2 separate regions of the Homo sapiens genome follow, and region 2 is linked to region 1. Evidence: fine-mapped expression QTL. A gene starts in region 1. The other region holds a variant in brackets. All regions are shown on one strand. Distances are between the middles of the regions.

Evidence for each region. PIP is the estimated chance that this variant, and not a neighbour inherited with it, causes the effect. A credible set is the group of variants that fine-mapping cannot tell apart.
Region 2: its variant is the best candidate, but not a certain one, in a credible set for the expression of AFF2 in whole blood (TOPMed, PIP 0.62).

The regions. Positions count from the first base shown.
Region 1 is chrX:148,489,966-148,505,615 of GRCh38, reverse strand. It overlaps AFF2 (ALF transcription elongation factor 2), which reads right to left and starts at 4,999. Exons shown (of 21, transcript NM_002025.4): 1 at 4,472-4,999. The coding sequence starts at 4,518. RefSeq lists an enhancer at 3,462-4,339.
Region 2 is chrX:148,464,711-148,480,360 of GRCh38, reverse strand. It overlaps the pseudogene RPL7L1P11. Among named protein-coding and RNA genes, the nearest start is that of AFF2, 28 kb to the left of the region's middle. The variant C/T (reference allele first, on the strand shown) is at 6,972.

The sequences.
Region 1 (15,650 bases):
CAAAATAATCTTAGCTAAGAATCATGGGCATTTATTACATGTTAAAGGTTAGTACATTAAAGCCATTTCTATTCAACAATAATTAGCATGTTTAAATACAATATAATTTGTATCCATCTACAGGATGCTTAAATGTATGGAATCTCATTCATGTCTATAATGATGGACTCATTTTCCAGGCAGTCATTTTCTACCTTGATTTGTATATTTTAAAGTTGTTAAATGCTTGACTGAATCATTAGCAAAACAATTCATGTATCATTAAACTGATTTCTACCATGAGATAATTTTCTTCCGTGTCCAATAGATGTGCCTCTTAAGATGTACTGAGATAGCTTTTATTCTTTGGAGGGTTTGGGGAGTTGCGGAGGAGACCTTACTAGTGAATTTCACCAACTTAAATTTCTCCTACCCACACATTCCCTTAAGAAACACAACCTAAAATGGTTTGTTGAATGAATGCTCAAACACACGGGAGAATGCATACTGTACTAGCAAAGAAAACAGACCATAGGCAGTCTCCCTTTTAAGAGACCACAGAGGGAAAACGGGAAAGATAAATGGATGGAGGTAGAGAACAAGAAATGCTGGGAATCTCTAGGCCTTATTCAAAACAGGACTTCCCCTCCCCCCACCCCACCACAGCCCTAGTATCTCCAAGTTGGCAAAGGTTGTGTTCCCCCCATCTCCCACACCTTCCCATCCATAAACAGTCCTGTTCCGCTCTTCTGGAGGATTGTAGCTAACGAGGCCTCGGAAGACCTGTGCGCACAGAACAGGAGGAGGCAGCCGGGTTGCTGCAGTGCATGGGCCATGCCCGGCTGGAGCTGAAACAGTTCACTTTTGTCTAGAAAGCAGCCCCCCGCCCCTTCTCCGGCACTGCCCCGCCCTCGCAAGGTCGAAGAAAACTGGGGAAAGTGCAGTTCGGACTGCTGGGGCAGGCCCTGGGGGCTGCCTTTACCGGAGGAGGAGAGGCCTGGCCGGCACATGGCCCCTTCTCAGCCTTGACAGCCCCACACAGACCTTTGAACTTTCTATTTATATAACAGTTTAGTGAGTTTAAGTCTCTTCCTGTATAACTGCCCGTTTGCAAGCTTGCCTCTAATTAGGCTATTTGTGAGACATCACATAAAAACTACAAACAATTGATGCTGTCCCTTGCGGTGAGAAGCCAGCCACTGTCACAGTCACTTAACTACGATTTTAACTAGGCTTTTGAACGTTCTGATTTTGCTATCACGGTGGTTTTCTTTTCTTTTCTTTTCTTTTTTTTAAGAATGTGTCCCTTTCTGTATTTTCTTTCTTTTCTTTCCTTTCCTTCCTTCCAATGAAGAAAAGGTAAGCATCCCCACAAAGAACCTTGGCTTGTCACAAAGCAATACCTAATCAATACTGGGTGGGAGGTGCTTACAGAACTGAAAGGCTGTACATTTTGTAGGCCCTCTGAATTTGCTTTTTTTCCCTCTTAAATGGGGATTAATGACATCATTACCTGATCTTCAGTCACCTCAAGTATTCATTTACTTGGTTACCAAAAACAAGTCTATGGAATGATTTAAATGAAGAAATTTGATTTTTTTTTAATTTATCTTTTTCTTTAAGAGCAAGTGATGTCTTTCATGCACACAGACAGACATCTGTGCCATCTTTTTCTTTCACAGAATGGTTTATATTAAATTCAGACTCAGGTGAACATTGCTCATTCATCCAAGAATCTTAAAGAACTTGAGCTTTGGCCCTTTAATCGAGTCCAGAGCATGACCCATTAAGTTATTCTTGCAGTTTGTGAAATCCAGTGGTATGTTCCATTAGGCATGTGAGCATTCCAAAACACTGCACATAACATGCACACTGCAGCATCATTAGTACCCCATCCTTTCCATTTGCATTTGCCCTAACAAATGTGTGTGTTTATAAATGGGCACACACTTTTTGTTTACTACAGTCAAGTGTTTGCAAATAACACATATGCCTGTGTATGTAAAGTCTTTCTTCATTATGTCTAGGAAAATGAGTTTGTTTTTAAGCTGTCCTGATCCATTTATTGTCAGACATCTAGGGTTGCAGTAGAGACAGCTCAGAGCTTACTGTTCCATAAGTGAATGTTAAGAATAAATTCAAGGTAAATAAGATCGTTAACTTTGCTGGTCTTTTTTCCTTTCTTGGCCCTCCTGGGGGCTTGGGGGCGTGGGGAGTGGAGGCCATCACTTTAAGTAGCTATTTACTCCCAAGGAATGGAAGTAAACATATAATGAACACGTAACTGGCATGCTCTGGACTTCCAAAGAGAAGTGGGAAAGGTACCAATTTCCACTCAAGACAATGTCAAGCTTTTTAGTTCATCCACTATTGTCACATTTATGTTCCTTTTCTCTGTGGAGCTATACAAAACACAAAAGCACAACCACATTACAAATGTTTATAAACAGAGATGCATCACGAAGTGTGCCACTCACGAGCAGTAAGAAGGAGAAATTTTCCTGGATCATGTACAGAGGGAAAGGACAGGCTTATTTATGCAGATGCGTTACACTAATTAATCAGTATTTCACATAATATTCACGAAGTGTCCAAGTCTATGCTTCTTAACTGATGTGTCTCAGTTAGGGATCTGGAGGAAAAAAAGGTTTTGCATTTTCCTTAAGATAAGAAAAAGAAAGCCTCCCACAGGGGTGAGGGAGCCTATCATTTTTTTTAAAGAAATCAAACATAAAAGAGTCCATTCCCTTTAAATATGCAATTGCATATGCATAAGATTAAACCGGAATTAATATAAAAAACATGTTTCTAAAAACCTAATACCTTGTATATGTTTAACATTTGAACTATACCCATGAAATTAATTATAACAATGTCTGTTAAATTAACGATGTAACCCACACCACATATTAGGCAAATTGTATGCAAATAGAGTGCTATGGTTATCAGTTGTCTGCAAAATAAATTAGTGAAGCAGAGTAAAGGCTGTGTGCAGAAGCATAATATCTAATTGAGCAATAATTTTATAGTAATTTTTACTTTCAAATAACAGCATTTTTTAATGTAACAATGTATTTCTACAGAGCTGATAAAACCGTGGTATCCAAAACGCCTTATAGATTAATACTGATACAGCATAATTTGCGCTTCAAGGATTTATCCGGAATTGCTGTAAAATAAAATGTATTTAAGTTCTGACTATCTTGGATTTGCAACTAAAGGAGGCATGATTGGCATAATGAAGCTGTTGGCTAAGCATATGACCCTTTTTTAAAGAAGGAAATTGCCTAAAATATCACATCAACAGGGGAAATCCTTGTAAAAATACACAGCATTCATAACCAACGGCCGCTAGTAGTTTAACATTGCAAAAGATTTCGCACTATTGGTAGGTACTACAGATCATTCTAAATACATTTTAAAAGGCAATAACCAAGAATGCAATTTTAAGCGGTTACCACTGCGCCCCCTCCCCATCTAATTCCTTAGACTGCGGGGGGAATCTGATACGTTTAAGTATTATGACAAATAAACTGTGATAATGTTTGTAGTAGGTGAAGTTTTTGAAAAGTTAATAGATATGTATATCAGTATTTATGCACACGCGCACGCACATCTCTAAGAGAGTTAACAACTTTCCAGGTCCCCAGTCACCTTTCTACCATCTTTCAAAATGTCTCAGCGACAAGTTTAGGGTATTTTGTGAAGAGCTGACTCAACCTTTGAATCTGAGCTGGAGGTCCCTTACAAAAAACTACGGCTGCCTCCCAGTGGGAGGCCGAAGGGGGTCCATCCGGTAATTAAATGTGCATTGACATCAGAGCTGCGGATTTGGGGGGCCAACTCCGAAAACCCTCAGTCTTGAAAGCCAAGCGCCGAAGTCGGCCTCGAACCAAGGTCCCCTGAGTGGTGGCCCCCAAAGCCGCTGCTCCACCCGGGAGTGCAGGGAACTTGGGCTGAGTCGGCAGAAGGAAAGGTGTGCGCGCCGCGCAGCGCAGGGATGGAGGTGGCGGCAGCGGGGGCGGTGGCCACCAAGGAAGCAGAGGGCTGCTGGCCGCACCTGGCCGTTGCCTTTCCCCCATGGCCCGCCGCGGGCGTTGGGCACCTGGAAAGTTGAGACATTTCGGGCGGGCGGCATCCGGGGCTCAAGGAGGCCAGACCGGCAAGCCGCTCCGAGAGAAAAGCTCCTGGGAGGTCGTGCGGTTCAGCCCTCGGGCGGCACCGAATTCGATGTGAGCCAAATGCAACTCTTTAGACTTGGAGCGCAAAGCGACGCTTTCGGGTCCGCATCCCTCCCTCTTCCCGCACCTCCCCCCACCCCGGCATCCGACCTAGGAGTCAGCGCGGCCGGGGCCAGAGGTGGCTGAGAGCAAGTGGGAGGGAGTCCGGGGCGCCCCCCACGACAGCTTCAGCTCCTCTTAACAAAGGCGAAAACCTCAGACTTCGCCAGGAGACTCGCTCATCAAAGGAGAAGGCAAAAATCAACACCTACCACTGCTGCTCCAAGTCCCAGTCTCTGAAAAAGTCGAATAGATCCATAGCGGCCAGGCGGCGGCGGCGGGCGGGCGCCTGTCCCTGATCGCAGCGGGTCGGCGCGGCTCTCGGCACAGCTCGCTGGCGGTTCTCGGCGGCCCCCGGCTCTCCAGCCCTCCCGCCCAGCTAAAAGTGTCCGGGCCGCATCGGCAGCAGCAGCGGGCGCTGGAGGTGTCTGGTCCTGTGCTCCGGCGAGGAAGCGGCGGCAGTGGCACTGGGCGGGCAAGCGCCTGGTCGCCCACTCGGGTCCGCTCGGTCCGCGGTAGCCCGCGCACCCAGCGACCCGACGCTGCGGCGGCAGCCGCTGCGGGCTCAGGCGGGCTGGGCCGCCCGCCTGGCTGGCTGCGGGCCGGCGGCGGCAGCGGCGGCGGGGGCGGCCGGGGCAGAGGCAGCGGCGCGGCGCGGCAGCCGGGGCGGCAGCGGCGGCGGCGGCGGCGGCGGCGGCGGCGGCGGCGGCGGCGGCGGCAGCGGCTGCACAGGCGGCGGCGGCGGCCGCGGCAGCATCACACACTTACACACTCACAGGGGGCGGAGCCTGGACAGCTAGAAGCCGCGACATGGAGCAGGCACGTTATCATCCCCGGATCTGGCAGGGGCTCGCCGCGCCCGCCCCTGCCTTTCGGGAACCCTCTCCCACCCCCCACTGTCAAAATCAGCTAGTGGGAGCGGCCACAGAGCTGAGGACCCGGACCCGGACCCGGGACGCAGGGGCCGTGGCAGGGATACAGGAGGTGGGCTGGCGGGACCAGGACGCGGGCTTCGGGAATGGGACCCCTCTCTGAAGCCCAGCCCACCCCCACCACTGGGAATTAGTTTTGAACTAGAAAAGACAGCACAAACAGCCGTGGGGTTGAAGGTCGCCCCCTGCCACCTCAAGCACAGCTCCTTGAGCCCCCGAGTAGTGGAGCAAACTTTGCGGGCCTGAGCATCCCTCAGGTCTGTAGTGCGTAGCACGCGGGTCCAGGAAGGAGAAGGCGGTCACCTTCACCAGCCCCGTGGCTCCACGTGCCCGCACCCAGGCCCTCCAGGCATGCCTTTAGGCGCGCACCTAGTAGGTCAGCGAGCTATAGGCCCTGGATTCAGTGGGCAGCAAGGATAGGAACAAATGACTGCCCTTGCGTGGTCCTTGAGTTCGGGGTTAGGATACTGTTAAACTGGGTTCCACTGTCACTTTCCTCGCACGGTCACCAGGTGCCTTGAGCAAAAGACTTCTGCTAGCTCCTCCTCTGAGAAATGGGAAAACCACTGGGTGTGTGCCCAGTATCCCACGCACCGGCTGCCCGTCTCCCTTCTGGCCTGAAATTCTCTTTCTGCACGTGGAGGGTTTAACCGAGCCTCCTACTCCCTTCAACCTCCACCTCTGATCCAGGAAGGAGTGGATCCCTTTAGCCAATTCCCTGGAGGGAAAGGTTCCCTGGCCTCCGTGCAGAGAAAGGTCTGTGGGAAGGGGCGGGACCGCTTTCTGGCATTTCAGGACATGAGCATTCTGGAGTCCTAGGCATGTAATTTGCCTTCTTCGTGTCGTTATACAGAGGGAATAGTATTGGCACATTTTTCAAATCCTAAGGCTAGAACTCTCTTGGGAAGGACAGCAGACTGAGCCCTGACAGAGCAGGGTGCCGGTAGCTCTGTGTGTGACTCCAAGCAAGTCACTTATCTGGGCCTCAGTTTCTCCATAAAACACCCAGCAGCCCTCTGGCTCATACTTCTCTGACATTCTCCCTTCTATTTGAATATGCTTCTACAGTATTATCTCATATTACCAAAATCATCCAAATACCTTTTAACTTCATTTTTTTCCTGAAGAAACAGAGACCCTAAGACATTAAAATGCTCAAGATCTGATATTTCCCCTAGAGGGGGATCCCAGATTAGAACCTAGAACCTGGGAAGCTCTTCCAGGGCTGGAGCCAGTAGAAGGTGCCTCAGCTCCAAGCATGAATGACTTCAGCATTTGAGCTACAAGGGGCCCAGGGTCTGGTCTCTTTCACATTGTTTTACGGGGGGAAAGAAAGCACATCATTAACATAGAGAAACAAGGCTCTAAGATTCTGCAACTCAAGCATCCACTGGGACTTTGCTTAGATGTCTATTTACTTTGCATGGGACCAAGTCCTCAACAGATGCTGGTTGACTGATGGAAAATCAACCAGTGGGCAGCCAAGGGGAGACGACATCTCAAAGTGGCTTGTAGATTTGGCTACCTGTAAACTCCTCTGGTCAAAAAGACTCTATGGAGAAACAGTTATTGGCAAAAATGGTGCTGGGGATTTTCAAATTATCTCTGTGACTTATTTATTCATGGAATTCTAGTATTCAGCCCTGGACTGAGAGCCCTTAAAGCAACAAGGACGGCCTCGCTCAGATCTGTGGCCCCCGACCTTTATGCCTTCAGTAAAAAATCCTCAAATTGGATTTGATTGCTGATGATGGTTGCCAGCATTAGTACTTGATCTGCTTGAAAATCCTTAGAGGAAAGCCAGAACACCTACAATTAACATTTAAATGGTGATTATGGTCACTTTATTTCTGGTTTACTTTTCTCACAAAATTGTATTTAATGGGGAAAGATAGAAAAAAAAATAACATGCTAGGCAAACAAATTTTCAACAGAAATAAAGCTGCCCCTTTAAGAGTTCCAGCCCCCCATCACCTCACTGGTGCACTTTCTTCCCAATCAGCAGGAGGACCAAGCAGAAGCAGAAGGAGCCAGCAAGAGGCAGCACTATGAACAGAAGTGCCTGCGGGAAGGAGAGAAGAGACAAGTGGTGCCGGCTGCTGCTTCAAAAGAGGGGCAGGGGCTTTCCCTTCCTGAGATCAAAACCAAGCAGGAAGGTTGGGTTGGGTGGAAGGAGCCCCCACTTCCTAGCCACTCTCCTCAAACAGAGATGAGGTTAAGACAGGCAACACTGAAGGGGCCAGGCTGTCCCTGAGGCCTCTTTGGCCGGGCCTGGCACCTGCTCACTGAGCATCAGCTACTGAGCAAGATAGAAGCTTTGTCTTCTCTGATCCAAGGTGTGCTTTCTCCCTTCCTCCTCACTCTGTGCATCCGTGGCTCTGATGGGGCCAGGGGCCCTAGAACTCAGCTCTTCAATGAATCCTCAAACATGTGGGCAGGATGCTGGATCCAAGCCATGCTTCCTCCACCAAAAAGCTAGCAGGAGGGTGGAGAAAGCACTTTGCATGGAGGGCAGTAGCAAGAGGAAATAAAAAGGCTATCTGGAGGGAGGGCCCACTGCTGCTGTCATACTGGGGTCATCTAGCTGTCATCTAGCCTGTGGTGGGGATCCAGTTGCTTCCCTCTCATTCCACTCACTATGGCATCTTAGCTATGGTGGAATACTCCCCCTCACCAGCCTAATGCCTTTGTTTTGGCTGGAAAAGCTCCTTTCTTACCTAGCAAAACCCACCTCAGGCCCCAGTTTCAGAACTCTCAGTTCAACCGAATATTTTAGAAACTGCAGGCACAACCTTCTCTCCCTCTGACCCTTCTCCCTCTGTTGGCTTCTCCCATTCTGACTGTCTCCCCCACCCCTGCCAGTGCCTCACCAATTTCCCCTAGTCACAAAACCCCAACCAAAAGGAACCTACTGGGAGAACCCGTAGGCCAACAGAAAGCCATCTTTTCTGACAGGAAAGGATCAAAACTGAGACTCCATGCCCCAATCCACTGAGATAAAACCAGAAATTGTTTTTAAGAGGGATTGGTTTTATAGAAATGCTGATTTTCAGATTTTCTAAAGTGAGATTTTTGACTTGAATTACTTTTAAAGGAGTTTAATTTGTAGTCTCCAGGTACTAATCTTTGTTTCAAAGAACTTGAAATCCTCCATTTGTACAGTCGTACTAAAGGCACTGTCATGCAGGTTCGGGTAGTGTCTAAAAATTAGGATTAGTTTAAGAAAGTTGCACTGTGCATGTCAGTTACAGGAAATGAACAAATTGACAACGTGTGATACACATGTCATCATGTCACACCACAGATTTCCACTTAAAATATTAAGCATTTGTTTCTGACCTGGTATGCTGTCAGGCTGACTTACTTTCTAGGAAGAAATTACGATCCAGGTTACAGCTCATTTGGGGAAGCTTGCTGGAAAGAATTCCATGGGCACCATGGGGACTACCACCTTTCATAACCGTGGCTCCTCTTCGGACAGAGCCACTTGGTGCTGCCATGAGTTTAGAATGGAGTGACATGACTCTGAATTTGGGGCAGTTTCCACACATGGGCTGCAATGTCCAGAATGATTCTTCTAAAGAAATACTTCAATCTTTTCTCTCTTTTTTTTGAGACGGAGTCCCACTCTGTCAACCAGGTAGGAGTGCAGTGGGCAGTGGTACGATCTCAGCTCACTGCAACCTCCGCTTTCCAGGTTCTCCTGCCTCAGCCTCCCCAGTAGCTGGGATTGCAGGGACACGCCACCACGCCCAAGTAATTTTTTTGTAGTTTTTAGTAGAGATGGGGTTTCACAATGTTGGCCAAGCTGGTCTCGAACTCCTGGCTTCAAGTGATCCACCCGCCTCGGCCTCCCAAACTGTTAGGATTACAGGCGTGAGCCACAGTGCTCAGCCTATTTCAATCTCAGTTCTCCCTAGAAACTGTAAGCCTTATGAGGGCAGGGCCTGAGTCTATGTCATCAAAGCCTAGGATGGTATCTGACACATAGTAGACCCTTCCAGGATCTATCTAACCAGCTTCTGTATAGGTAGCAATCTCAGGAGTTGATTTCAAATTGGGTCAGGACAATTCTCTGAACTTCCTGAATATGCATATGTAATTTTTTTTCACAACTCCTGTTTCTACCACTTATACTTTGGATCTCAATCATGCATCATGATTGAAAGACCCTATACTTGAGTTTTCTGGTTATCATAGGTAATGATCCCATTTCAGAGCTCTTCTAAAGTCCCTGGCTCTGGATTCCTACGAAGTCCTAAATATCAAACACCATCTGACCTTATGTCAATCATCTGCTTCATTAGGTTTATGGTATTTGAAAGGTCACGTTATTCTGATTTTAGATGATATGTTGCTGTAATTCCTTTTACATATTTAGCATAACCATAAAAGAGATAACATTGATTGAGCCTCTATATACCAGGCACAGTACTAAGCGTTGTATATACATTATTTCATTTACTCCTCAGCATGATTCTCTGAGGTAGATACTAGTATTGTACTTACTTATTTTGTAGGAGAAAGCCAAGGCTCACAGAATCTGAGTATTTACTCAAAGTCACAGAGCTCATAAGTGCCATAGCCAGGTTTTGTCCCCAAGCTGGTTTGCTGGCAAAGCCCATGTACTAATCCACACTGCCATACTACCCCCATTGTGCATTCACAAAGTATTTCATCTCACTTTAGCTCTGAGAGGTAAGCAGAGAATTAACCATACTCTCCATTTGACAGTAGAGGAAACAAGTTAAAGTGATTTCACCAAGGGCACATGGTGGGACAGCTGAGCAGCTGGGGCTGGGCATGAAATCCAGTGCTTGTTCTACTTACCACATTGTTGTTTATAGTCTCAGGGCCACCCTGATGAACTATAATACCCTGGGAGTTTGGGACTGAAGTGGCATCAGTTAACTGTTGGATTAGAAAAAAAATTCTCATGGTGCAATTTCCCTGATCTCAACTGTGGCTGAATTGGAGGAAGGCAGTTGACTGAGCCATGCCCTTGTATTAATGAAAGTCAATCTAATAGGCAACAGGAAGCAAGAATACGGTGGAGCAATTCTTGCTTCATCATTTAAGAAGACTCAGATGGGGCTTTTTCCTGGAGATTATAAATCTAGGGCTAAGAAACCTCTTTGGCCAACTGTTGGGGAACACATGTTGGTGGGCTGTAAGGTGTCCACAGGGAGTTATCTTCTGCATATGACTATGCTGCTATGCAACGACGAATCCCTGGCTAGTTCTTCTAACTTCTTGAGGGCTCCATTTTCTTGTGTATAAATTAAGGAAGTGGGAAACAGTCCAGCTCTGGCATTCTATGGCTCCTTGATTTGAAGTCCCTTTATATAACCTCCAGTCCATGGCCAAATGCAGATTCGTAGTTTATAATGATGAGGGAGGCAAAGTGAAGAGTCATCTGAATTGCCCAGATCAATAATCTCCATGTCTGATATGGTGATTGAGAAATCTACTTCCTGGAGCTCCGAGTGCTATCCCTGGGCTGCTCTCATCAACCCATTCAGCAGTGTGGCTGCCAACAGTTTCTTCCTGGAGCCAGCTATACAGAGCTGAAGGACTGGATTCCAGAGGGAAGTCAAGCATTTTTCCAGTGGCCAGAGAGGAAACCTAATGTATATGAGAGTGCTTTGTAAATGGTAAAAAGCCCCAGATAAATGTGTGCTCTCATCATCCCTGGAGCTGATGTCTTAGAGGCTTCCCCATTAGGTGACATCAGCAGTGCTAAGTGTACTAGCTATATTTGGATGTTTTATTCTAGTTTTTGTTGTTGTTGTTGTTAGTTTGTTTACAAAAGGGTATATATTAACCAGGCATGGGTTCCAGTTGCAAGTTTTCATGCTTTTAAAGTAATATTTATTAAGATATATAAACTTCTTTCTACGTGGTAATCATTTTTTGGAGGGAGTTCAGATCATTGATTTTCATACTGAAACATTTAAAGGGATTTAAATCAGTGTCTTTGTTTAAAGCATCCTGATTATTAGCATCGTGAGAAACTTTTATTTTTCTAATAAGTTGCTAACAATAAAATCCTCGGCGGTGTCATTAATAGAAATGAAATGACTGCCTAAAGTCAACTTTTAGCTGCTTCTGCCTTTTTATTTTCAGGAAATGGAATGCAGTAAGCCCCTCAAGCTCTGAATTATTCTTGAACGCTTTGATGCTTGGGCTCAGTGATGGCCATCAGAGATACAATTAGGCTGTGTTGTTCTGTGGGTGAAAGGAGAGCAGAGGCCTCAGCCTCCAGAACTTTTGCCTAATCACTTCACCTCCTGGGAACTGCTGCTCCAAAGAGGCCATGCTTCTCTGCCACTAGGTGGTTCATCCTTCCTCCTTTCACAAAAGTCAAACCAGATCTGGATGATCAGGATGACCCAGAGTTGGCCTGGATTGTAACAGTTAAATGGCTGAGGAGACTTTCCACCACTACCCCAATGGCCCCCCTCAGGCTCTTTCTTCCATAAACCTGCAACCTCCCCAATGAATGAGATGCCTCTGGACCCACCACCAATGATAATGGGATCTGTTGTGAACAGGCAAAAAAGTGCCTGCCCATTTCCACCCCATAGTCTACTTTGCATTGCTATGAGGGATCCAACCAGGCCAAAATGCTTTCACAATCTTCTGAGAGACCACAGCTTGGAAGAGGGCCATATCCCTCACCCAGCTGCACTTCCAGGTGTCGCACTTGTGCCTCACTCAATAGCATCTTCTTAGGTCAACTGGCCATGCTTTGAGACTTTACTTATCAGTGATGACATTTTAGTCATGTACATTTCTCAGCAGGGTGATGGCCCCAAGATAGCCTTTTTCTTTTCTGCCAGCATATAGGGTTTTTTAAAATATCATAGAATATCAGCACTACCAGGAACCTTATTGATTATCTATAGTCCAGTGGAGGCTCAGGTTACTCACCAAGATTGCACAGCTAGTTATATGAATCAAAACCATAAGAAGATCCCCCAAGTCTCAATTGAAACTCAAATTATGCAGTCTTGAAATCTTAAGCCACTGCATCTTATACCATTTTATGTTTTAAAATACTTATCATTTGAACCATAAATTAAGGAAAAACTTATGCTTTGGAGAAAAATGAAAATTCCATCCAATACTCTGTAAGAGAATGATTTACTTTTTTTGAGGATTGATTATCTGTGTAATCAACTATCTTCAAGAAGTGTTCATTAAGCTCCCAGTTTAAGGTCCCAGGTTAAGTAGACACTTTGCCATACCATTGCTTGAAAGAGAAAATGGTCAGCTCTACTTGGAAAGCACATGCAATTCACTTTATTTAAAGCATGCCTTCCTGGAACAAATTATACTGGCACTATTGAGTGTAAGGTGGCAAAGTAATTCTCAGTTAAAAAATAAAACCCAAAAGAAGGCCACAGGCTCTAGGATGGGAAATGTTCTGGCTGTACTTTCATTTTCTAGTATCCTCATTAGTAATGTGTGTTTTCTCCAACATGGTGTCATTGACGTAGCATATGTAAAGTCCTACATGCAGCCCCCCCTTCTGCCTCCCCAAATCTTCTATCACGATAGAATCCTGCCTTCCCCATTCTGATCTGCTGGATTGTGTATGGGAAAATGTTTCACCTAGGTCAAATGGCAACCATATTCTATCTCTGAAGCAGACAAAACTTTTGCTTACTTTTCTCATTCACCTCGAATGCGTCAGAGGCAAATGTGAGTGTGAAGAAAATCTTTTGATCTCATATTCAAGAGCTAATGAAGAATGGAAATGTTACCTAGTATTTTCTTTCCATTTTCACATGCCCCAGTTTTGGCCAAAGTGTCTGCTTTTAACCAAAAGCATATTTTAAATGAGTAGGTTTTTCAGTGCATTAACCTTTATTACAGGCCTCCAAGCAGCCAGTTAGAACCATTACATAGCACTCACCAAAGTGTAGTTTCTAGAAGTTCACTGATAAAAAGATGATAGAAACTTTCTGCAGTAATTTTGTTTATAGTTAACATTTTTTAAAGGTTGAACAGGCATCAGGACCATTTATGGGAACAAGAAGTTTATAATCTCTGTGAGATTTATTTAAAAAAACATAAAATAAGGAAGAAACTTCTAACAATAAGTCCATTAGGAAAGGGCCTAGTGTTCCTCTTGGACATCCAAAGTACCTCAGTCAGCAATTAATTTGGTTCAGAGTATGTAGGCTATTGTGATGCGTAAACAGAGGCTTTCTATACAAACTGGGGATAATATAGAAAAATTGTAAAGAGTTCATTTAGAGGTCCCAGGTGCCGAAGAGTATGCCTACTGACAAAAAATGTAGGTAGCAATTCCTGACACTTTGAACTATATAACCATGTCCTCTATAAATGTTGAAGCATTAACATGTAAACATCAATATCAATATTGATTCATTGACATGTAAAATTTTAAAAATTGCTGAAAACAGAATAAAAAATTTTGACTAAAAACATTTAAAAATTTTTTGATATATAATACCAGTATATATTTTGAGGGTATATTTGATATTTGATATTTTGATACCTGTATACAATATGTAATGATTAAATCAGGGTATTGGGATACCCATCACCTTAAATATTTATCTTTTCTTTGTGTTGGAAACATTCCAGTTCTTCTATTTTAAATTATTATTAAACACAATAAATTATTAATTATAGTCTCCTAACTGTACTATTGAATACTGGAACTTATTCCTTCTTTCTAATTGTATTTTGGTACCCATTAACCAACTTCTCTTTATAGTCCACCTCCCCTTACCTCTAAGCCTCTGCTAACCACCATTCTATTCTTTATCTCCATGAGATCCACTTTTTAAGTTACCACATATGAGTGAAAACACGCAATATTTGTTTTTCTGTGCCTGGCTTATTTCACTTAACCTATGACCTTCAGTTCCATCCATGTTGCTGTAAATGACAAGATTTCATTTGTTATGCCTGCATGATATTCCATTGTGTGTATATATACCACATTTTCTTTATCTATTCGGCCATTGATAGATATTTAGGTTGGATCCCATATCTTGGCTATTGTGAATAGTGCTACACTAAATGTGGGAGTGCAGATGGTCTTCAATATACTGATTTTCTTTCTTTTTGGGTATGTACTCAGCAGTGGGATTGCTGGATCATGTGGTAGTTCTGTTGTTTTGTAAGGAACTTCCATACTGCTTTCCACAGTGGCTGTAGTAATTTACATTTCCAGCAACAGTGTATGAGCACTTCCCTTTCTCTGCATCCTCACCAGCATTTGCTATTTGTTGTCTTTTTTTTATAATAACCATTCTAACTGTCTCTTAGATAAATGCCTTTTTAACTGGGATGATAGGATATCTCATTGTAGTTTTGATTTGCATTTTCTTAATGATTACTGATGTTGAGCATCTTTTCACATACCTGCTGGCTATTTGTATGTCTTCTTTTGAGAAATGTCTATGCAGGTCTTTTGCCCATTTTTAGTCAGATTATTTGGTTTTGTTTCTTACTATTGAGTTGTTGCCAACTCATTTTTGACAAAGGTGCCAAGAACATACTTTGGGCAAAGGACAGTTTCTTTGATAAATGGTGCGGGGAAAACTGGAAATCTATATGCAGAGGAGTGAGACTAGATTCCCGTCTTTCATCATACAAAAAAGTCAACTCAAAATGGATTAAAGACTTAAATCTAAGACCTGAAACTATGGAACCACTAAAAGAAAACATCAGGGAAACACTACAGGATATTGGTCTGGGTAAAGATTTTTTTTTTTTTTTTTTTTGATAAAACTTCAAAAGAACAGGCAACAAAAGCAAAAAAAAAAAAAATAGACCAATGGGATTATATCAAGCTAAAAAGCTTCAGCATAACAAAGGAAACAGAGAAAGTGAAGAGAACCTACAGAATGGGAGAAAATATTTATAAACTATCCATCCAACAAGGATTTAATAACCAGAATATATAAGGAGCTCAAACAAGTCAAGAGGAAAACACATAATCTTATCATAGAATGTCTCAACTCAAGGGAAACTTGAAGATTATGCATAAGTTATGACATTTTGCAACTGAGGAAACGGATCAGAAAAGAACAATGAGCAAATGAAGTTTAAAAGCTTTATTAAAAACTCAAAATTTGAACCCATGTCTTCTGCTACAAGCCTAGAGCTCATTCCTCTCCATCACGATGCCTTTTCTGAAAACACACCAGTAGTCAGAATCCTCTAGAAGAGTAGCACAACTCCTCAAGCTCACACAAACTAACAAGGCATTCCTTCAAATGAAATATCAAAAAATGGGGAGAAGGGATTGAGACAATAGCCACATGAAGAAATATTACTCAGCCATTACAGTTATGTTTACAAAAGGTTTGTAATAACCTGAAAAATGTTTTATTATGAAAGGAAAATGTATGAAATCATATAAACGTAAGTCTGAACTACATGAAACAGATGCATAAGAAGAAGACTGGAAGGA
Region 2 (15,650 bases), 25 kb after region 1:
TTGCTATCTTATTTGGTGCATAAATATTTATAAGTCATATATTTGTATTCTAAATTATGACTTTTAGCACTAATATATATCCTTGTGTTGATAAGAAACCCACCTTAAATACAAATGAATGGTTAAGTTAAAATTAAAAGATGAACAAAGATATATCATGCAAACATTAACTAAAAGGAAACTGTATTAATTACAGGCAAAGTAGACTTCAGAATATCATTAGAGGGAAAAAGGGAAATTACATAATGATGGTTAATTCCTCAAGAAGACATAACAATTAGAAAATGTATATGCATCTAATAACAGAGCTTCAAAATACATGAGGCAAAAAGACTGATCAATTTGAAAGGAGAAATAGACAAATTCATACTTAGAGTGGAAGACTTTAATACGCCTCTTTGAGTTATTGATAAAACAAGATGGCAGAAAATCGGAAAGTATATAGATGACCTGAACAACACTATCAACCAACTTTACCTCACTGATATTAATAGAATGTTCTACCCAGCAGCAGCGGAATACACATTCTTTCCAAGTGCACATGGTAGGCCATATTCTGAACCATGAAATAACAGCTCAACACATTTGAAAGAATAGAAATAATCAAGTGTATTTTTGGACTGTAATGGTCTTAATATAGAAATCAATAACAAAAAGGTATCTGTAAAATACCCAGATGTTTGGAAAATAAACAACACATTCTAAATAACACATAGATCAAAGAGGCAATTGGAAGAAAAATTAAAAAGTCTTTTGAACTGAATACATTTTGATACTGAATATCAAAATCTGTGGGATGCAGTTAATGTAGCACGCAGAGGTAAATGTATATCATTAAATGTATACATCAGAAAAGAAGAAAGATCTAAAGTTAGTAACCTGATTCTACCTTAAATAACTAGAAAATAAAGAGCAAGTTAGATGCAAAGTTAAGAGAAGAAAGTAAGTAATAAAGATTAGAAGAAAGCTCTATTCAATTGAAAAAAATAAACACAATAGAGAAAATCAATTTGTATTCTTCAATACACAGCAGTGACCTTTACATTTTTTCTTTCACGCTTCCTCCTCTCAATTTTAGTTACGTTATTTCCACTTTATCACAATAGATGATTTTTGTGTGTGTATATGTCACCCTCACTCATACTTTTTGTCTTAGCTGTACTTTTATAGTTTTAATATGTCACCATATGTTCTTTTGCAGAAGTTTCACAGTCATAACTTGATTGGATGAAACTTATCCCCTAGTGTATTCCACAGAACAAGGTGATGAATATCAAATTCTTTAAATTATTGAATGTTGAAAACTGGTTTTCTAGTCTTGAAACTTGAAGGAGAGCCTGATTGTATTAATATGTACAATTATTGGTTTATACTTTATTTCATTGAGCATTTTATTTTCAAAATGCTGCTTCATTGCTGTTCTGCTTGTATGTTGATTATGAAAATTCTGTGCCAGTCCAATTGTTTTGTAAGTTAATCGATCGCTTTGCCTAGAGGCCTAGAAGATTTTACTTTTATTTTTTAAATGTAATCATGTTACCAGGTCATGTTTTAGAGTTGAAAATTCTGTTAATTTCCCTAAGTACTCATGGGTCAACTCAGGCATTTTTCTATTTCTGGGAAGATATTTGTTTCATAGTTTTAAATATTAGTCCTGTTTCAGTGTTTCTGCATTTTTTCTCCAGGGACTCCAATAATAGAAATATTATTCCTTCTTTACCTCTCTTCCATTTCCACTACCTTCCTTTTGACTGTTTTTTACTTATATTTTGTGGTCTTTTAATCTTTTTGCTTTTTTTTCTCTGCCCCTTATTGCATTTTTTTTTCAATGCCCCTTATTACATTTTCATTTCAACCCATTCCTTCTCCCTTGGATCCCTTGTAATTTATTCTTCTTTTATAAGATAATTTTGTATTTTTCTTCCATTTATTTGCAGAGTTTACTCATCTCTCTTACTTCTTCCAGTGTTTAGTTCATTTCTACTTTTAGTGTTTGACTTTCTGACTCAAGGTAGTTTTTTATAGCCTCACAAGCTTGTTTAAATTTATTTAATTCTATTTGGTGTGTTGACTTACTTCTTTATATGATTCATAGGTTTTTTTTCGGGGGGGGGGTTCCTCAGTTCATATATATGATATTTTGTTTCCTAATTTTCTGTCATAGCTTTGTTAACTTCAGTTTTCTTTTGTTCATTTTTATGGTACTGAGTTATTTTTATAAGACTGCAAATTAAATGCCATCTTCTTTTGTCAGTATAGAAAGGACCAGGTACTTTGGCTGTGATGTGGGAGTTGTAAGTGCTTAGATGATGTGGTTCTCTTTTGTCTTGCAGGGCCCTAAATTTCCCCCCTTTGCCTTTGTATTCCTTTTGACTACCCAATTGTCAAATATTTCTTTTCCTTTCCTTCTTACTTTTCTTCTCCCTGCCAAAGCTATGTGTTTTGAAGCCAATTCCTTCATATCATGCCTGCTCTTTTACATCATGCCTGCCTGCTTAAAGAGTGCTTGACTCCTTTAAACCATATGTGCCCCTTTTAATTATGTATAATTTTAAGTTCTCTCCTTATAGTTCATGTTCTCATCTTCCTAGAAACTTTTTATTTTAGTATTTTCGGGATTAAAGTGGACTTACTCTTTCTGGAAGTAGATTTAAAATAAACTTAGCACATTTTCCTAGCTTCCCTCATTTGTCTTCCCTGAGGTTTTTTGTTTGTTTGTTTGCTTACAGTCTGCCTTTGCTGGCCACAGAGCCTTACAGTAGGACAGACATGGGCCAGGACCACGAGAGATGAAACTCTGGGAATAGGTGAATTTTATCTTTTCACTCACAGTTACTTTGAAGTTTGGGCATTCTCTGTCCTTAAGCTATGATAAGGGCATGGTTTTTATATTGATTCATTTCTTCCTTTTTTTGTCATTTTTGTAGGCTACATTAGCAGGCAGGTTGCAGGCTGCTGTACTACAATTACTACTTGATGTCTGTTTATGTTTTTTTTTAGAGATTTAAAGATGCCTTTTATCCCAACATTGTAGATACTAAGTTTACTCCCTTTTATGGAGGGTAGAAAATAACAAAAATATTGCTATAATTCAATAGAGATTAAAAGATAAGAATTTAAATTTAAGGTGAGAGGACTTCCCATTAGCAATGGACAATTCAAAATTTTTGATATGAAAATGATGTCTAATAAAAAAATTCTACTATCAGGCTCCTCCTTCGTATATACTTTATTAATCTTTTGCTTTTGCAATCTAAGTGATGGATGACATGGGCATTTCTAAGGAAAAATGTTATTCACCTTTCTAAAACTGCCAATATTCCCTATGAATACTTCTTATATTCATTAGGAAAGCTTTAGGTTGAAAGTAACTAATACCGGATGATGAGTATAGTTTGAATCTATGAGGATATTCACTGTTAAGTATGAAGTAAGGCAGTCTCATTGTTGAGCAAACAGCTTAACAGTGTCCTCAAGAATTCAGGCTCTTTCCATCTCTTTATTCTGCTACACTCAAAGTTTTGGCCTTTGGGTTTGTGTGTGTGTGTGTGTGTGTGTGTGTGTGTGTGTGTGTGTGTGTGTGTGTGGTGAGGTTTTATCACCTTATGGTCACATGAAGGCTGCTATAGCTTCAGACATTATGTCTTCAATTTAGCAGGAAGAATGAAAAGGAGAAGACACACGTGCTTTGTTATCAGGAAACCACAATAGTTTCCCCAAGTCTCAAACAAATTCTGGCCAAACCTAGCTATAAGTACCTAGCCTTCCAACATCTGTAGGAAGCAGGGAGAAGAGAGTTGGAAATGGCTGTTGAATTTTCCAGCCAACAATGTGTATGCCAATGGTTCCAAAATAGTTAAGTGGTGCCACTAGCAGTTCTAGGAAAGACATCCAAGAATACTTGTAGTCCAAATGCTTTCTAAATGACAATAATTGTCATTGACACTTTAAGACTACTTACTATAACCAAAATATGGAGTTCAAAGTTTTTCTCATTCTGACCATTCTGTTGTACTTACACCCTCTGGCTTAAGGAAGGGGTACAAAGCCCTACTTGTGTATTTGGAAAGATGGTGTGGGGTACTCAGCGGAAGTGTAGGGAGTATGCAAGCAAGGCACAGCCTACGTAACTATAGTGCTCTGTTGCTTGCTTAGTGCTTAGAGATGGTGACATTGTCTGACTGAGTGATTAAGAGACTGATAATGTCACTGCAACATTGTGTCACTGAAAAAAAAAATGAGTACAGATAATGACCTGGTTCCTTTTTGAGTGCCACCACTTGAGAATACCCACAGTGCCCTCTGCATATTCTAGTCAATCAATTGTAAAGACTGTTGATGGTTTATAGGCTTTCAAAATTAGGGAATTAGGATTAGGGAACAACAAGGCATCGAAATAGAATTTAGAAGCTCAAAGAAATCAAACCACTTTTCATAAATTCCTAATGGAAATACTGGGTATGGAAACTGATTTGGGCATAACCATTAACATATAACACTTACGAATGCTTCCACTATTCTTTCTGATATGATTCATCTCTGTATTTATCTGTTTTGACTTCAGTGTAAACTATACCAGCTGGCATCCTAGTGGAATAGGAACATTATACAGTTATTAAACAACAACAAATTATATATTACACATGACATAAAGATAAACAACCAATAGTTAATTCTTATAGGAGAATAGCAAAACTTTTTCTCAATACTGAGAATGAAGTACAAAGCTCTGGCATTTTATTGTTTGCAAAACTTTGATTTGATTTTATCCTCCCAAGAAAACAGAAGACGTATTATTGTTCTTACTTTGCAGATGAGAATCATAGGCTCAGAGAGGGGAAATGACTTGGCCAAAGTCTCCCTGTTTCTTAGTGAAAGTAGTAGGACTTGACCTTAGGTTTCCTGAGTCTTCATCCATTGCTCTTTCCACCTTTGCAGGCTGTTTCCTGGACCACTTTGTGGTTCAGGTTTCTGAAATAATATATTTCTGACTAGTTTATACCCCTGTTGTGCTAAATAGAACTGAAGTCTCAAATCTGGGTCCACCTGGGACCACTATTTCAGATGAATTAACTGATTTCAAATGTCTTGGTCCACTGTTTCTGTCAATAAATAAGGCATTTGCCATTTTTTGTTGTTTTTGTTGTTGTTGTTGTTGTAGTTGAGATGGAGTCTTGCTCTGTCGCCCAGGCTGGAGTGCAGTGGCGCGATCTCGGCTCACTGCAAGCTCTGCCTCCTGGGTTCACACCATTCTCCTGCCTCAGCCTCCCGAGTAGCTGGGACTATAGGCGCCCACCACCACGCCAGGCTAATTTTTTTGTATTTTTAGTAGAGACAGGGTTTCACTGTGTTAGCCAGGATGGTCTCGATCTCCTGACCTCGTGATGCACCCGCATCGGCCTCCCAAAGTGCTGGGATTACAGGAGTGAGCCATGGCATTTGCCATTCTTATGCTAGTTTCCTTTTTTTTTTCTAGCTGGACATAAGCTAGAGAGTTAACTTGTATCATGATCAAAAGCAAGAGGTGATTTGCCAACAGCAAAATCCTAATGCTATTTATCTATAAAAGGAAGATAAACAGATAATGCAAAAAATAACCCAACCTTGATATTTCAGCCATGTAGCCATGTAAAGTCAAATAAAACCATGATAGAAAAAATAAAAAAGATTTCACTGTTCGATTTTCCTCTTTATTCTCCTTAATAATACAACAAATACTGTACTTTACTTAGAATGATTTTTAAATGAACTACTAAAATGACCCAGTCAAAAAGCAAGAATAAATTTGACCAAAGTTTAAAACCAATGTCAGTTTTCAAATTTCTGCAGGATAAACATGACCTTATTGCATTTTAAATCTGTATAATTTTACAAAATATGATGCTTAGTCTCCAAGAAAAATTCTTTTAAGACTTAATAAGTTACTTGGATAGTATATAGCATATTCTTATCTGTATTTTTCTCAAATACACAGATTCACTATTCTATTTTTAAAAAGTGTTTGAAAAGGGCATTTGAAGTTTTCACAGATAACTGAATAATGGTTTGCAATGTTCACCACGGTAAAAACGTAGTTTGCTTGGTTCGCTATGACTAATTATTCTGAGAGATACAAATATGTGCACTTATGCTGAAAAGCTCTCTTGTCCTGCCCTCTAGCATGCAACTTTTCATGAATTTTATGCAAATCTCTGTATTCAACAGCAATTTTTATTTGAAAAATAGAACAATGAGTAGCATAGAAAAAAATAAGAAAATTAAGGTCAACTTTTCTATACTCTGGTCTTTTATCTTCACGATCTTCACATTTATTTTTACTGTTCCAGCAAGATTGGCTTCTTATTTTCACTGTTTCAGCATCAGCAGGGTATTTTCTGTAACAGCTCCATATGGATGATGTACATGCTTCTTGGCTTATATCTACTCATATGTTCATGATTTAACACCAAATGGAAATTACAGCCAACTCTCAATGACCCATAAAAGAGAGGGGCATTGTAGTACAGATAACTCAAGAAGTCCAAAAACCCTAAGTCATTTGTTTGGCTTTGGATGTGTTCTCTATCTTAGCTTAGAATACTTTGTCTTTTAATTAAGCCTACTTTCCTAATTGTGTTTTATAAGTCAGTATTTTCAGCAAATGAAAATGTAAATAATTCCAGTCAATGGGGGAAGTTGATTTGGAGGAATGTTGCATGGAGTTGTGGGAAGCTGATAGAGGCATTAAAATTAATGCAAACAATTCACAAAAAAAATACAGTACATACAGATAATCAGGCATTGACTTTATTATACTATATTCAAAAGGTGAAAATTATGCCTGCTTAGTCCTGTGCATGCATACCTGGGATAGTCTTATCATCTATAGAAAATGCAAAATAACATTTCTCTGTGTATATTTACCCCTTGTTGCATTATTTTGACTATGATCATCTATTTCTAAAAATGACATACCCGACTAAGAAGTAAGG[C/T]GAAACCAAAAGCATCAAGAAAAATGTAATATTAGCATTAGGCAATGGAAGCATTCAAATCAGATACTGCTTAAAGGTAAGTCAGTAAAGATTTAAATAAGCTTAGCCAGAATTCCAAACATAGAAAGGAAATAAGATTCAATATTCTTTGCATAAGTAGGGGAGATTTTTACAAATAAAAGCACCTCATGTGTGCTTCTATGAAGTGTTTAAGTTCTGTGGCTTAGATAGTTGTGTAAAGATTCATGAAAATAAGGTAAATTTGACTCCAATATTGGCTCTCTACCAGGTGCCTTTTTATTATCAAAAAAAAAAAAAGAAAAAAACAATGTAGTCATGCCCTCCAATACTTGCACTGTACCTCCTATGGTTTATTTTAGCATGGTCTCTTATTATGAGGGTTGACATTGGACCTGATTTCTTTTGATTCTAAATCTGTGTATTAGCTTAATATTTCTTCTGTTCAATCCTAGATCTTTTAAATTAATTGGAGAGTTATCATTTTATGTGGTTTAATATGGAAAATTATCAGTAGAAGATAGATTCAAGAAGGCACAAGTTAAAGGTGAGATGGAGGTATGGCAAGGCTAAGGCGTTTGCCCTGGCTAGGAGGTTCATTTCAGCACATGGAATGGACCTGCTCAAGTTGTGGGCAGAGAAGGAGGTTCAGGAGAAGATATAAAGTGTGCTTTATATCATTTGATAGAGACCATCTTAGTCCTGCTTTATTGAGATCTAGACTTGCATAGTCCCTCCAAGCTCTTGAGAAGCAGAGTGCCAGAGTGGGAAGATCAGGCATGGCCTTTATATCCAGAGACCTGGTTGGAATTCTAGCTCTGTCACTTGCTAGGCTTGTGACCTTAGATAAATTGCTTAGTCTTCCTTAGCTTCACATTCCCCATCTATAAAGTGAGGACAATATTAACTAGTGCACAGTATAGTTGTGACTATTAAAAAAAAAAAAAAAAACTAAACATGAGTCCTTGGCGTGAATCTCAGGCCTTAAACACAAGTATGTAAAATTTGTGACTTCTTTTTTGATAAATCAATTTAATTCCTTTTTTAGTGGTCTCCACTTTGCTAGATGGAAGACATACCATCTCAGTCAGGTCAGGGGCTCTCTCTTTCCACTTACCTCTGGAGTTCCAGGGTCAAGTGTACTGGTCGTCAGCAGGCTCCATCTTCTCATGTTGGCACCCTGCCTTAGTATGTTTTGTTTTGTTACAACAGAATATCTGAGGCCGAGGAATTTATAAAGAACAGAAATGTATTCTCTCACAGTTATGGAGGCTTGGAAGTCAAAGGTCAAGGTGCTGACATCTGATCTGGTGAGGTCCTTCTTTCTGCATCTTCACATGGCAGAAGGCAGAAGAAGAGACAAAAAAGGAATGGAACTTGCCCTTGTATAACAGCATTAATCCCATACATGAGGGTGCAGCCATCAAAGACTAATAACCTCTTAATGGTCCTACCTCATAATACTGTTTCAATGACAATTAAATTTCAACATGAGTTTCGGAGGTGAAAAACATACAAACCATAGCACACCCACACAAGTTGTCACTGTTCTGACTCTCACTGTCCTCTGTGGGCCCTCTCCCCATTCTGGCTTTCTCAGTCCTGGACTCCATCTCTGGTGTATGGGAAACCATCCAGCTCCTCTTTCTTGCTGCTCTGGGACTGACAGAAGCTGAGAGGCTACCTCTGTATCTTCAACCTAGGGACATCCTCATCCATTTCAAATCTATAGCTGCTCAGCCATGTTGGGTTCAAGAGAGATGTCTTTGAGGCTCACTGCTGCCTAGTCCACTACCTGCAAAGTGTGGCACAAGTCACATCTGTTATTGAAACCCTAGAACCTGCCTACAGTTCCTGTAATCCAACCCTTCCCATGTTAGTCCATTTGTGTTGCTATAAAGGAATACCTGAGGCTGCCTAATTTATGAAGAAAAGAGGTTTATTTGGCTCATAGTTATACAGGCTGTACAGGAAGCATAGTGCCAGTGAGGTAGGTACTACTTTTGGCACTATTTTTGCAGGTGGAATAACGGAGGCACCGAGAAGTTAAGGGCCTTTCCCAAGGTCACATAGCTAGCATGTGGTGGAGTTGGGATTTTCACTCATACAGCCTGTCTGTGATGGTCACACTTTGATGATGATACTATATTGCCCCTCAGAGAGTATATACCAAGGGAGTGGGTGAGGAGGCTGATTCAGGCTGGTCGCATGCCTAGACATTCTAGATCTCAGCATGTGAAATTCACAAGCCATGAATTTGGCTCTCATTCCCTTTTCATTTCTGTTGTAGTATCCTTTCCCCGTGTCAATGAAAAGAACAGAATGAGAATGCAGTACAATATGTGTCCCTTTTGTTGGGGGGGGATAGCAGCTAATTCTTCATAATTGGTATTCTGCTGCACTTTTCAAGCACAGATAAGTTAGTTCCCAACTTCCTCTTCAAATTCTGTATCATGGAGTTTGCCCTCAGAACAAAAATTTGCTCCACATAAAACTTAGTTCTACACAAAATGTTTTAACATTAATATTCAATTTTTAATGAGAAGATTCTGCTTCCTTTATATGTTTGTATTTCAATTAAAGAAAACACTAAGCCTGCCCCCATAACTATACTTGACTATTCAGAAACCTTGGAAATCCTGGTGAAAGGCGGACAAGTTATAGCAAAGGCCTCTGTGCTGTCCTTTCTGAATCCAGCCAGTTTGGTAGATCACCACAGACACAAGCATAAGGCCCTGCACATAGTAGGCCCTCAAAAATAGTGGTTGATTGATTGTGAGATGCCCAAAAGGAAGAAGATGTCAAATGGGAAAATTGCTCTTGCCATATGCTTGACTGGATGGTCATGCATGGCTGAGCATGTTTCTCCTGCTCTCCATAGGTGTGCTCCACTGTCACTGTGCGACATTTGTGACCTCTGAGGGTTCAGAGTTCATGTCCTCCTCTTCAAAGGCTTGGGTTCTATGCCCTTCTCTTCTTAGAATAACCCCAGAAGGGCAATTAGGTTTTTAGAAAATGGTTTTCAATGGAGATGATGTTGCCTGCACATTATTCAGAGCAACTGAGTGGCTGGTAGGCAGTGACCCTGTATTTCACAGCTCTCTAGTTCAGTTATTTTGTAAGAATGCCATAGATGACTGATTAGTGTGTTCTCAGCTTCCAGATAAATTGACAATGGTAAAATATGGACATCTCAGAGAGTCCAGCCATTTTCTTGCAGCTTATGAGAAGTGATGACTTTTAGAGCTTCAAAGAGAAGTAAAATGCTACAACCAGCTAGAAATGCAGATACACACCGCTGCCAACTCCCCATTACAATTCTCTGTCTTTCAAATGGAGATTAAATGCAGTGCCAAAATGTGTCATCTGGTGTTGCATTTTTGTAATGTGGACAAATGTCGATAAAATTCATGTGGAGTCACAAAAATCTAACTATTTATGAATTAAAATTAAATGTAAGTTTTGCCATAGGTAGAAGCCTTAATTGCTAAGGCTAGATTCAGTGCCATTATCAAAACAGCAACACTTCCTTCCTGCAATCACCAGTTCAAAAGGAGAAAGGGGAAACTGCCCTCTCTGACAAGCTACTGTTCATACCAAGCTTTACACCTGTAATCTCAATGGGTGCCATATATCAGACCTGATAAAAGTGAATCAGATGATTTTGGGACTGCCTACTGTGTAGATAGTTGTTACATTTCAATCCATCTAACAAACCCATTCACAATTTTGGCAGGCACAAGCAACATATTTTGCCTTCAAAATGTGCTTGTGTCTCGCCATGCTCCCCTGGATCAATCTTTATTCTTTTTCATCCATATAACTTCCCTCGCAAGACCTTTAGACCCTTGCCAGGAAGCAGAGGAAACTAAAATCTTCCTCTATTCAAATGTTCCAAATTGGACTATCACTACTCTGGGTAGTATGACAATAACTGTTATATATTTCAAATTCTTGCTGATTGGCTATCTGATATTCATGATTTACATTCACATTTTAATATGAAATTCTTCCCCATATGCATGTGTTTACACTAATTTCAATGAAATTTTTAATTTATTTCACTGTCAATGGCTGCCTGTCCAGTGGATCTATACAGTTAGCACTGCCTCTTCACGGGAGAAATTTCATCCGATGAGTGAAGTAACAACTCTTGGAAAGTTGTTTACAGAAAACAGCTTTTCAGTAACATGAGAAGATTATGACTTGAAGCATATATGCCCAGCATTTTGCCTCAAGAATTTAGCCTTGCAGTTGACCATGGCAGATATAAATGGCCAATCCTTGGGGAACGATGGCAGAGAGAAACATGGTAAGCTCAAAAGCTTCATATATTTCATCATTAGTAATATATCAAATACTTATTGAAGATCTTGATTTCATCCCTTCTGGACTCCCTATGTTTATGACAGCCAATTCCAACATTTCATCAAGCTTCCAACTCTACAAACCCTCCTCAGTTGACAACCTCACACCTTAATTTACTGACACAAGTTTCCTCAGTTTTCTTCTCATTCATGCTAAAATTCCTCTCTACCTTATTCATTTTTTCTACTATCTCTCTTTTTATAATCCTCTTTCTTTCCAACTCCACTTCTTCATTGTCTACTTACTCCTGAACTTAGGGTTTATATTTTCAGCATGCTACTCAACATTCTCTTTTGCAAGCAACTATGATCCAACATGGTTGGATCCAACATGCTCTTCCTCATTGAACTATGACCTATTGTAATGTTGACATTTCCTTCTAGAAACTCTTTTTCCTTGGCTCAGGCAATCTTACAAGAAATATATGGTTTCTCCTCTTGCCTGAGGGCTCCTTGTTTTTCTTCACTGCTTCCTCTTCCAAGGCTTTGTCCTTCACTTTTTTTTTTTTTTTTCCTCTTTAGAAGCAAGGTTTCTAATCTTAGGAAGAAATGGAAAAGCTTCTGAGGGTTCCAGGAAACCTTGGTAAGTTTATGCCAAATTGTATTTGTGTGTACATCTGTTTATGCATTTGGGTAAAAGGGGCCATAATTTAATTGAATTTCAAAGAAGTCCAGGACCCTGCAGAAAATGTTAAGAACTTTTGCTCCAGACTTCCTTCCTGGGCAATTTTACCATCCTCCAGTGCTGAAATGATTGCCTTCCAAATCTCAGTCTTCCACCTGACCATCCTCTTAATCTTTAGCTTTTTAAGTATCTCTGATTCTTTATGTTTCCTCCTGGTATACAGTAGTACTACACATTAGTAAATATACTCTCTATGGAAGCCACAACAAGTGAAGCACTCATTTTACCAGCCCTACTTGCCGGGTACCCATATGGCAGCTCTGCACAAAAATTTTAAAGTGCACCTTTCAGGGAGGTCCAGTGCTATGGGTACATGGCTTAGTAACAGGATGGTAGTTTTGTGGGGTTTTTTGTTGTTGTTGTTGTTGACTTTTCAATATTGTATCTCCATCATGCCAAGCCTGCATTCAAGCTGATTTTGAAGCATCTTAGTCTGACTCTCAAGGACCTCCATGATCTGGTCTAAACCCTATGCTTCTAGCATAGTAACCCACTAATCCTCTCCAAAAAGCTTCCACTCTAGCCAGACTGGTCTGCTTATTGTTGCCCGGACAGACTATATGCATTCCTCTGCATATTTGCTCACCATATTTTACCTACCTAGAATCTCTGCCTCTCCAACATGTTAGACTGAGTGAGTCCTCTATACTTTCACATCTTAGTTCTAGCTCTACTTCTTCTAAGAAACATTTTATAATAACTCCAGTGCTTACTGACTTCACCTTCCTATAAGATCTTGTTGCCCTTATTGTCTGTATCACACTGTTGACTGTGAGCACTCTTCAGTCTTTGACTTCTAGTACAGTGCCCTAGGACCTTGGCATTCAAAATGTGGTCCATGGACCAACAGAATGGGCAGTACTTGGGAGCTAGCTAAAAATGAAGAATCTCATAACCCACCCCAGACCTACCAAAAAATACTCTGCATTTTAACAAGATCTTCAAGTGATTCTTACAAATGATAGAGTTCGAGAGGCAGTGCCCTATGTCATGCATTTGTAGTTGTTAAAATATCTTAGTTTCAGTCCCTGAATATACCTTATGTTTCATGACATTTTACTTTCTGATCATGCCTTCTCTGTTCCCTATTACTTTTCAGAACTCTATGTATTCTATGATGCTTTTCCTATATTCCCCCATTGAAAGTATATCTCTTCTTGAATTACTTTGATGCCTCTTTGCTCATTTTCTACATGTATCTTGTATTAAAGGGCATTTTGTGTGCAGAGGTATTAACTCCTTTGTTAGATTATAAGCTCTTTGAGGGTAGGAATGGGATTTTCTTCATCTCTGATCCTTGACAGATTCTGGCAGAGTTCCTGACACCCAGTAGTTAAAAATAATAAATGTTTGCTGAATGAATGAATGAATGAATGAATGAATGGCTAATTTCATAATAAATTCATTTGGATTTTAGAATTTACTTGGGAAAAATGTGATAGATAATTGACCATGGGTCGTGCTGTTCGTAATTGCAATGTTTTTATTTTTCAAGCCAAATATTAATTATCTAACCCAGTCATGCTGTTTCTTAATGACTTTTAAACCTGTACCACTATGAATACAAGCCTGCATGAATTTTTAACAGTCTCCAAGTAGTTCATAATTAAAGACCAAGTGATTCAACTCACTGTCGCAATCAATGCCTTTGTTTATCGCTTAGTTTTCATCTCTGTATAGATAACCAAGAAAAAAAAGCTAACAAACCACAGAAAACAAAATCGGATGATAAAGAAGTATGAAAAAGTATCTCACCACCCATTCTGTGTCTGAATGACTAGTAATGAAAGGGAAAAGTGTCAGTAGCCATTCAAGTTAATCAATATACTGACTCATCTACTCAACAAATTCTAGATGAATCAGAGGTCTTTGTGTTTCAAAGTTTATGACTCATATCTCTTAAACTCTGTGGACCTAATCACAGAAACTAAACAGGGGAGAAAACGAAATGATCCAAATCCAATCTTTGAGCAGTGCAAGAAAAAAAGAAACTTTCTGAATTAGAAGTCATCTTCTTCTAGAGGCTTAACAGTTTCAGATGGATTTCTCCAGTTATCTAAGAGAGATCAGTCTGTATCCAGTTTCTCCTTCTGTCACAAAACGCAACAGTTTCTTTTTGAGATCAAAATGATGTTGCCTTATATTAGAAAGTGATTGTAGTTATTAAGGTGTTTTGAAAGTCTTTTGTTTACTGACTATGACCATTTTGGAAGATGATTTATCTGTTAGATTGACTTTTGAGAAAAGAACTGGAATACCTGGTTATACAAACATGAAAGTCCCCTAAAATTATATCCCACAGGTCTACTGCTCTAGATTCTTCATTGTGAATACACTCAAATCTCACTAAGTAGGCTAGTAAAGAGAAAAGTCAATATAGCAGAAAGTATTTCTCTTTCTTTCTTCTTTCTTTTTTTTAGAGACAAGTAAATATTTGTTTTCGTGCCTTACTTCCTATGTGTATTTCAAGTCTTTTTCAAAACGAGGCCCCAGGAATCTCCAGATTCAATTATGTCCCTGGGCTTGGTCGACTGCTGCAGGAGTCTTAGGAAGCCTTATACAAATGCTAGAGCTACTCATTTACCAACATTAAACCTGGGATAGCAGATGCAACAAAGCAGGACTCCTTCCCCCATGGAATGTGCTGATTTCAGATGAGGCGGCAGCCACAATATAGAAAACACTGGGAATTTTTCCTTGGAACTGGGCTGTGATGAGAGGTGCTTGCCATGAACATAAGCTACTGTCTTTTCTTTGACCCTTCCTTTCCAGTTTTTGAAGACAAAGCAGGAAATAATCTTCTCTGAAGATACTTGATAAAAATTCCCAGAAAACAAAAACACATGCTTCCACTTCATTGATAAAAATTTACTGCAGTTTGGCACCTGGGTCTAGTTCAGCTGGCAGATGAGCTGATTGATGCATTCACCCTGATAGCCAGGTGTGCCCATCTCCTTGAGGAAGCCCACTCTATTTTTGGTAGCATGATGGGCCACTGAGAGGTGGAAAGGGCACAAGAACCATAAGATCTCCTGGAAATGCTTCCCTGGGAAGGCAATTTCATAAATGAGGTCTTTCAAGAAAATGACGCCAACCTTCCCCAGGTGCTCCTCAATCACTGTGTTGTCTGTCAGAGGGATGGTCTTATTCTTGACCTTGGATTGTCCACGTTTCAAAATGAGTTCCCAGACAGACTTCAGATTTGGAAATCCCCAGGTCACACAACGTTCCACTATACGCAGCATTTTTAGGTTCTGGGGGGTGACTTTTACAAAGACACCACTAAAAATTTTCTTTAGGCGAAGTCTTGCAATGGTCTGCACCAGTAAACTCACGCCATCAATCCTTTCGATGCATACAGCAAAGGCCAAGGAATGTTTATCTGGCAATTCCAAGTCATGAGGTTTCACTTCTAGTTGTCTGAGATGCACCTTGTCACATTTCTGTGACTTGACAATCATGTAGGAATGACTCCAGTTGCTTAAACCTGAGCCCTTTTCCTTTCCTCTGCTCCTTCTTTGCCAAAAGTGCCTGCTTTGCCTGGGTGGCTTTGAGGGCTTGATAAACCTTCCTCTTTTTCAGGAGATTTTCTGGAACCAAAGGGATTTT